Linked DNA regions of Homo sapiens. The protein of the gene in region 2 purifies or fractionates together with the protein of the main gene of each other region. This does not show direct contact. Each region holds a gene or a part of one and is shown on either strand. Other genes may lie near its edges. The genes, in order: JPH1 and TBC1D8.

Region 1 (4,020 bases), on a different chromosome or scaffold from region 2:
AGTGAGAAGTTGGATACTTTCAGAAGTTATCTTACAGGCCCAGCTTTTCAAATTTCTCTAATCACAACCACAACATTTCAGAAATGAAGTTATATTTTACAAACTATGGGATCCTATTTTGATAAATATCATTATAATAAATACCAGATAGTTGTCCAAGGGCCCCAAATTTTTACTTGTTTAAACAAACCAACCTCATATAACCCATCTTTTCAGATCTGCTCCATGAAGAAGCCACCTTTATTACAAAGACATGATTGTGGTATTTACTGTTAAAATAATGTCTAATTCTTATATAGCATTAAAAGTATTCTAAACTGGCTTTATGAGGTAGGTAGTTTTATTGTCCTCATTTTACAGAAGAGGAAACAGTGGTACTCCATTTGGATACTGGGTAAGACTACACTGAAACAATGTTACAGAGGCCTCAAAAGTATTGATGTTTTTTGGGTGTGGGGTAAGTGAATAATGGAGATTGGAGCTGTCATTGGTCAAACACTAATCAATTCGGGTCTAGGGTTTGGGTCACACATCATTGACTCAAGAAGGTCTCTTTCCCTGACTGAGCCCACATCTCCGTGGTAGAGGTCAGAGTGCCCTGCTCTTTCTCTATCACAAGGCGTTTCACACTTGATTATCCTTTGTTGTTTAACTGCTATTTTCCCCCACAAGACTCTGAGCTCCACAGTGGCAGGGGCCTTGTCTTATTCACTGCTATGTACCCAGTGCACAGACACGTGACATTGCCCAATTCATTCAGGCAACCAATATTTAATGAGACTCTACTATCTTCCAGCACATTTCCAAGTGCCGTGGATGTGGGTTGTTTTGTTTTGAGACAGGCTCTTGCTCTGTCACCCAGACTGGAATGCAGTGGTGTGATCTCAGCTCATCGCAGCCTTGACCTCCCAGGTTCAAGCTATCCTACCACTTCAGCTTCCTGAGTAGCTGAGACCAACAGTGCGTGCTATCAAACCTGGTTAATTTTTGTATTTTTTGTAGAGATGAGGTCTCACTATGTTGCCCAGGCTGGTCTCAACTTCCTGGCCTTAAGCGATCCTGCCACCTTGGCCTCCCAAAGTGCTGGGATTCCAGGCGTGTACCACAGTGCCTGACCCAAATGTGGGTTGTTAAACGAAATGGATTAAATCACTGAATTAAATGAAGAACAAACAGGGTGATGAGTAAAATGGGGGAGGGAGAGGAAGTAAACATGAGTCCCCTTTAAGTGGGGACTATTAGGCAGAAGAAAAGCATCAGTTCCTAAACCCCAAGTAAATGGGAGGAAAATAAACATTTTTTGCAGGTTTTTATAATGCTGGGCAGTGGGTTAAACATCTCTGAGATTTTTTTTTTTGTTTATTCTTCACAAGTGATTATTAGTTCCATTTTACAGAGCTTAAGAGGACAGGTGTCTTGCTCAAGTTTCCTCAGCCAGTTTGAACAAATTGGAACTCGAATTAAGCTTTAGTCTGGTCACTTCAGAGCTCCATGCTCTTTTCTCTATATGTCTATTAAAGATACAGGCCTTAGTTTAAAGGCAATTTCCCATTCAGTCCTTTAAAATGACATTTTCCTCTATATCCTATAATTTCCACAGTATCAGAAAAACATCAAATTGTGATAACGACCAACTGCTCTTTTAGAATAGTTGTAATTCTAAATTGATAGGAGAGTCCTAACCTGTGCAACTCCTCAATTATGGTTAATTTAGAGCATAGAAATAATGCAGAAAACTCTTATAACTCAGAAAATAGTGGAGACGATCTTTCAATGTCACAACTGAGCACAGAGATTAAGGAAATATTATTACAGGCTAAGCATCCCTTATCTGAAACACTTGGGACCCTAAGTGTTTGGGGTTTCAGATTTTCTTCTGATGTACAGGTTGAGCATCCCGAATACAAAATTCTAAAATGCTGCAATGAGAATTTCCTTTGAGCATCATGTTGGTGCTCTAAAAGTTTCAGATTCTGGAGATTTAAAAAATTTTTAATTTTTGTGGGTAACATGGTATATATGTGATATTTTGATACCAGCATAGAATGTGTAATAATCACATCAGGGTAATGAGGTATCCAACACCTAAAGCATTTATTCTTTGTGTTCCAAACAATCCAATTATACTCTTTTAGTTATTTTATTTTTTGAGGTGGAGTCTTGCTCTGTCACCCAGGCTGGAGTGCAGTGGCGCGATCTTGGCTCACCGTAACCTCTGCCTCCTGGCTTCAAGTGATTCTCCTGCCTCAGCCTCCCGAGTAGCTGGGACTACAGGTGTTCACTACGATGCCCAGCTAACTTTTATATTTTTGGTAGAGACGGGGTTTCACCATGTTGGCCAGGCTGGTCCTGAACTCCTGACCTCAAGTGATCCATCCGCCTCAGCCTCCCAAAGTGTTGGGATTACAGGTGTGGGCTACCGTGCCCAGTTCTCTTTTAGTTATTTTAAAAGGTACAATTAAATTATTATTAACTACAGTCACCCTGTTGTGCTATCAAATACTAGATCTTATTTGTTCTATTTTTTTTTTTGTATCCATTAAACATCCCCTCTTCTCCCCTACGTCTTCACTTTCCATCCAGCCTCTGGTAACCATCCTTCTACTCTCCATCTCCATGAGTGTGATCGCTTTAATTTTTAGCTCCCACAAATAAATGAGAACATGCAAAGTTTGTCTTTCTGTGCCTGGCTTCTTTCACTTCACATCATGACCAGATGTTGGAGCATTCTGGATGTTCCACCTGTACTACTACACACTTAGATTAGATTTTGTTCATGAGTGTTTTAAGAATTTTGGATCATTTCAACTATTCTGGGCTACTGGGTTTATTTTATAATTTTCAAAGGTAATTTAGTGATATGAAAGGTGAGGAAAAATACACCTGGTCAGAACAATACAACATAGACTTTGGTGTCTTACAGTGGACCCAGGAAAGTGAAATAGCAGAGAACGTGCCTTCCATGAAGCCAACTTCTAAAGTCCAAGGTGTGCCTGAACCTTAACTCCCATTTCATAAATCCATATAAGATTCTGTGAATTTATCTAACCCCTTTGAATTAGTGAGTATTTTGAATTTGTATATTCTTTTGGTTTGAATTTAGATTACTATCTTTTCTCTAGTTTTTAGCCCACATATCACTGTACTGGCAATCCAGATTCAATGAATAGTGAATGAGTGCTTTATCCAAAATGAAAAATACATACATATATATTTTTTTCTTTTGCACGCATACACACACACACATATTTCTCCTGTATATGTTCTAATATACACACACATATATATTTATCCTACCAGGGTGGCTCCACTTAGAAAGCTATTTTTAAAGGTGACTCAGTGAAGATGAGGGAAAACTAGACATGAAAGCTTCAAACAGCAACCAGGGGAAAAATAAAAATCCGGGATGCTCTGTTCAGTGGCAGATACCAAGCCCTGGCCTCTGTGTTCTTTATATACCTAGGCACAGGATATGGGGTGAAAAGCTTTAAGGTAAAGTCTCATAAATACGACTGTGGTGGCCAGTTGTAGCTTAAAATAGCAAAATGAAAAAAAAATCTGTCTTGCTTTTCAAGACTGACTGGGACAGGTGTAATACAAGAAGCTGTAGCAGGGCACAGGGTAAGTCTTGATTGGAAGAAATTTTCCAGGTGGTAAGAAAATAAAAAACAGGAAATCAAAATACAGAAAGAAATCCTAACTCAAAAAATTATCTTTTTTTCCTTTAAGAGATTGTCACTCATATTTAAAACTGTAAGGAATTTTCTGCTAGAAGAGTTACTATGGTTTATGTGAAATCTAAAGCTTCTCTAGCTAGAAACACAAGAGAAGAACAAAGTTTAATTAAGTATTAACAGCAAAGTTTAATTATATATATTTACCTCTTTCGGGGGTGAGGTTCAAACCCAATTTGATGGGGACGCTTTAAATTTTACACAAATTCAAAAGAAAGATTAGATGAACCTCAAAACAAACTTGGATGCAAATCACAGGAATGGCTGAGAAAAAAGTGTAGTCATT
Region 2 (4,221 bases):
GAAACAAAAGCTGATAGTATTTCTGAAGTTAGGCAATTAAGATTACTTCAACCACCAGATCTCCTCTGTCTAAACTCCTACTAATACAAATTCAGCATCACAATAAAGGAAAAGAGATGTTTATTGATTACTGCTCTCTTACATTTTACTTCCAATCCCCCTTAGGCCACCACTGCTTGCTTCCCTCCAAACAAAAGTCTACAACCTGCCAGAATGTGTATCACTGTAGCCCTCATTCTTTTCATAAACTCAATCTAGGTTTTAAACTCTTAAATTGCTAACAATCTGCCACATTAGAATTGCACATTTTCCAAAAACCGCCACCACCACAGAGCTGCCCTGTGTCCCATGGGTCTTGACTTTACCACAATCCTAAGTGGTCCCATGAAGACCAGCCCCCCACAGCACACGTGGCAGGTCAGCGCTGCTTCATCGGCATTGGCTTCCCAGCTAAATGCTCAAAGGTAAAGTGTCTGGCTGCACATGTCATCCTTTTCAAAATCAACAGGGTCTCCAAGAAATACATCAAGTGTCCTCTTTTTGTAGACTTTTCCCTCTTTATGGTCGATCTTGTTGCATTTAAGCATAAGAAAATTCTGCACATTCACAGTAAGTCCAAACCGAAGTAAATATCAAGGAATGCCAGAGCCACAGGTATAATAATAATATGGGACCTGCTTGATTTTGGAATGAAACAGGGAGGGAATTCACTGAGTTCATCACAGAGACTCTGGACAACAGAGTCAGAAACCCTCTGGACAGGAAGCGGGCTTGAAGCCAGGCATCCTATGGCCAGCTCTGCCCTCCGTGTCTGGAACCATCTCACCCACTAACTAGATGGTGAATCGGCTGAAGGTAGCCGGCCCTCACCGCCTGCTCTCGGGCCTCTTTCCAGAGCAGCGAGCAGAGTATCCTACATATGTGCACGGAACTCAGTGAATGAATGAGCGTTTACGGGACAAACTGTCCTTATGTTTCTCACTTCACAAATCTTCAGGCCTTGTCCTCACTCTCTACTAAATGAAACATTTATAGACCAGGAACCCTGCTAAATGCACCATAAATAAAGATACACTGCCCTCAAAGAAAGGGAGGGACGACAAATTCCTGCCTCTTCGCCTCTTCCCAGGGCACCACCCACCTCCATTTCCTGAGAGCCTGGGCACTAAGCACCAGGGTGCGTCACGGGGCCCAACAAGGCCACTGTGGCCCCTGCCTCCTGCACAACTCCCTCCCCCAAAGCTCAAAACAGCTCCTGGAGCAGGCCCACGTGCTGCCCAAGTTGCCCAAGTTGAGTCCTTGTTGCCACTCAACAGGACCACTGGTTACCAAAGCACCGCCTCCGTCCAGAATCCTAACTACACTCTGCCCCTTCCATGGGGAACCCTCAGCTGCCTACAGCTCCCTCCATGCAGCAACCTGCCAACTCCCACCCACTCACCCGGTCTCAGTGTAAGTCTGCACTCCTCTAACAAACCCAACCGCCAGCTTTCTCAGAAGCTAAAGTCCAGCAAAATCCAGTTCCTTTGCACTTGGTTCTGCGGTTTCCAGGCGTGTTAGTACATCTCCTACCAGACTCAACCTCAAAAAGGCCTTCCCTAGACTGGTCTGAGAGCAGAAAGAGCCGCCAACCACTAACCCGGGGACCTAACCTAGGTCCTTTGACCTCTCTCTGGCCTCTGTCTTCTCCTCAGTAGAACAGGAACAAGACAGGAGATCTAAGCTCTCTTTTATTCCGATTCCAAAATTGGAAAGAAAAATATAGGCCCCCTAGATACAAATGAAAAAGTCTAATTGTTCCTTCACTGACCTTTAAACAGGTGTCCTAGCTACTGCAAGTTGGCGTCAATTTCAAAGAGCTTTGGAACAAAACTTTTAGAAAAAAAATGCTTTGTTTTATCATCAACTTTACGAGCCTGGGTTTTTTTTCCTATCATTCCTTGTAAGACACTGAAAGAGAGGAAAAAACTGATCTGTTCAATTTCTCTACTGAGATCACGAGCTTGGGATTCGCCCACCCTCAGTTTCCCCTCCGGGCGTGGAGACAGTTCCCGCTCACCGCGGCCTCCAAGAGCTGCGCCCCGCGCGCATCGCCGCGCGCCCCCAGCCACGACACCACCTGGAGCCTCCGGCGCCTCCAGATGGCCGAGTCCGGGCTGGCTCGGCGCACCCCGCTGTCACCTGGCCCCACACAGCAGCCTCGCTGCTCCAGGGCGGCCCCGAGCCCTCCGGCCCCGCTCCACCCGGCGTTTCTCCTTCGATTCCCAAGTCGAGTCCGGCCTCCAGCTCACCGGGCCAGGCGGCGAAGACACCTGCCTCGCCCGGAAAACGCACGCGCCCGGGAGCCCCCTCTACCACCACCTCGACGGGAGCCCGCGGGAGAAACGCAGAAAAAAGGAAAACAAGCCCGCGGCAGGGCCGTCCGGGCCCCGCGTCTCCCAAGAAATCGCCTCTGGCGACGCAGCCCGGGACTGGGGGCCGCGGGCCCGGCGGGGTGCGAGGCCCCGGGCCCGGCCGCCGCGCCCGCCCCGGCGAGCCCCTTACCGGTGAGGCGGCCGCCCCCCTCGCCGTGCCCGCGGCGCCGCTGCAGGATGAAGTAGCAGCTGCTCTTCTGGGTCACCCAGAGCTTCAGCGCGTTCTTCAGCAGCACCTCCTCGGGCTTGAGCCACATCGCGGCGGTCCGGCCGCGCCCGCCGGCCCCAGCTCACATCTCCCCGGCCGCCGGTCGCTGTGAGCCGAGCCCGCTCGAGAGGCGACGGCGGCGCGCGGGGACCACAGCCCGGCCGGTGCCCAGCGCTCTGAGAGCCCGCGGAGCGCAGCAGGCGCAGCTAGCCCCGCGCACCCAGCGCGGCCCTCACGTGGCCCCGCCCCGCACCCGCCCCTGGCCCCGCCCCGCACCCGCCCCTGGCCCCTCTCCAGCCGCCGGCCCCGCCCCCGACCGCCCCTACCCCGCGGCTCCCGCGGCGCCTCCCGGGTTTCCGCGTCCAAGGCGCTCCGGCGCGCAGTTCCGGAGTGGAGGGAGGAAGTCCAATCCTGCGCCAGGCTCCCTCCCTCCCGCCTCTCCGCGCTCTCAGGGGGAACTCGGGAGAGCTGCCGTCCCTGACCTCGACCTGAGACGTGGAGGAGGGACAGGGAAAAAGCCTTCTTCTCGCAGCTGCAGGTTGCCCCACCGAGGGCATTTTTCCGCACCGAGGGGGCGGGGGGCAGAATGCACGCCAGAAAACCTAAGTGCGCTGGGTTTAAAATAGCAACAACAACAAAAATTACAAATAACCAAAAAACAGCATAAGAATTAAAAACAGTTATATTCCAATGTTTTTAATACTTGGTTCACATTTTGGATGCTCTCCCCAGGGATCCGACGGCGCTGCGGAGGCGGCAGCGATGTTTGGGATCCTAAAGAAAGCATCAGACCAGACTCAGGTCTGGACGTCCCTCAAGTGGCCCGGAGGTACCGATATTAGTGTCACCGCCGTCAGTGCCCTGCCCAGAAATAAAACCTTTGTTCTGAGAGAAATTGAAAAGCTGGAAAATATGGAGTAGGCGATGTGAAGAGAAACTACAGGGAATGTAGAGGTCGGGTTTTAAATGCGTATTTCCTCAAGGATGTTGTGGAAGCAGAGACAAGGTGGCTGGCCTGGAGCAGGCTGGAGGACCTCCAAGGATCTCCACAGGGAGGCAGTTACATTTAACACCCTACCTAGCAAAAGAAGAAAAGAACAACCCCATGAAAACATCCCTGGGGTTTTAACAAAGGAATCCCTGACAAAACGTGACTGATAACTAGGACAGAACTGAAAAGTGGAAGTAAAGTCAATCCCGACCCCCCAGGACGCCTGGGAACTCAGGGAAGCGCCTCCAGAAGGGAACAGCTCAGAAACCCTGACCAGACCTGGCGGACAAGAACCGTGTGGGCGGGGGACAGGAACGCCCACCCAGAGGCCGGGAGAGCATGGTCCAGGACTGGCAGCCACTAACAGCCTCTGAATGAAACTGAGGAAGGAAGTCAATGGTAATCGGGACCATTAGGGTGCACCAGGGCATATAGAACAGTCGGGGACGGTAAGAAAACATTCCTTCCAGAGACATTCACTGGCACCTCCCGCGCAGACACACTGCCAGGCCCGGGAATCGCAGAGATGAACTGGGAGACTTGTCTGCCCTGGAGAACTCACAGGTAGGAAAATGAGGCAGAAAAGAGCCGTAGGCTTCCTAACAGGA

Evidence for each region.
Region 1: the proteins of TBC1D8 (region 2) and JPH1 purify together in Homo sapiens (affinity purification with mass spectrometry; one large-scale study listed by BioGRID and IntAct). This does not show direct contact.

The regions. Positions count from the first base shown.
Region 1 is NC_000008.11:74,237,841-74,241,860, forward strand, and holds part of JPH1 (junctophilin-1), read right to left. Parts: intron 1-4,020. UniProt on the Homo sapiens protein: Junctophilins contribute to the formation of junctional membrane complexes (JMCs) which link the plasma membrane with the endoplasmic or sarcoplasmic reticulum in excitable cells.
Region 2 is NC_000002.12:101,148,583-101,152,803, forward strand, and holds the start of TBC1D8 (TBC1 domain family member 8), read right to left. Parts: upstream 2,801-4,221; 5' UTR 2,672-2,800; coding exon 2,545-2,671; intron 1-2,544. UniProt on the Homo sapiens protein: May act as a GTPase-activating protein for Rab family protein(s).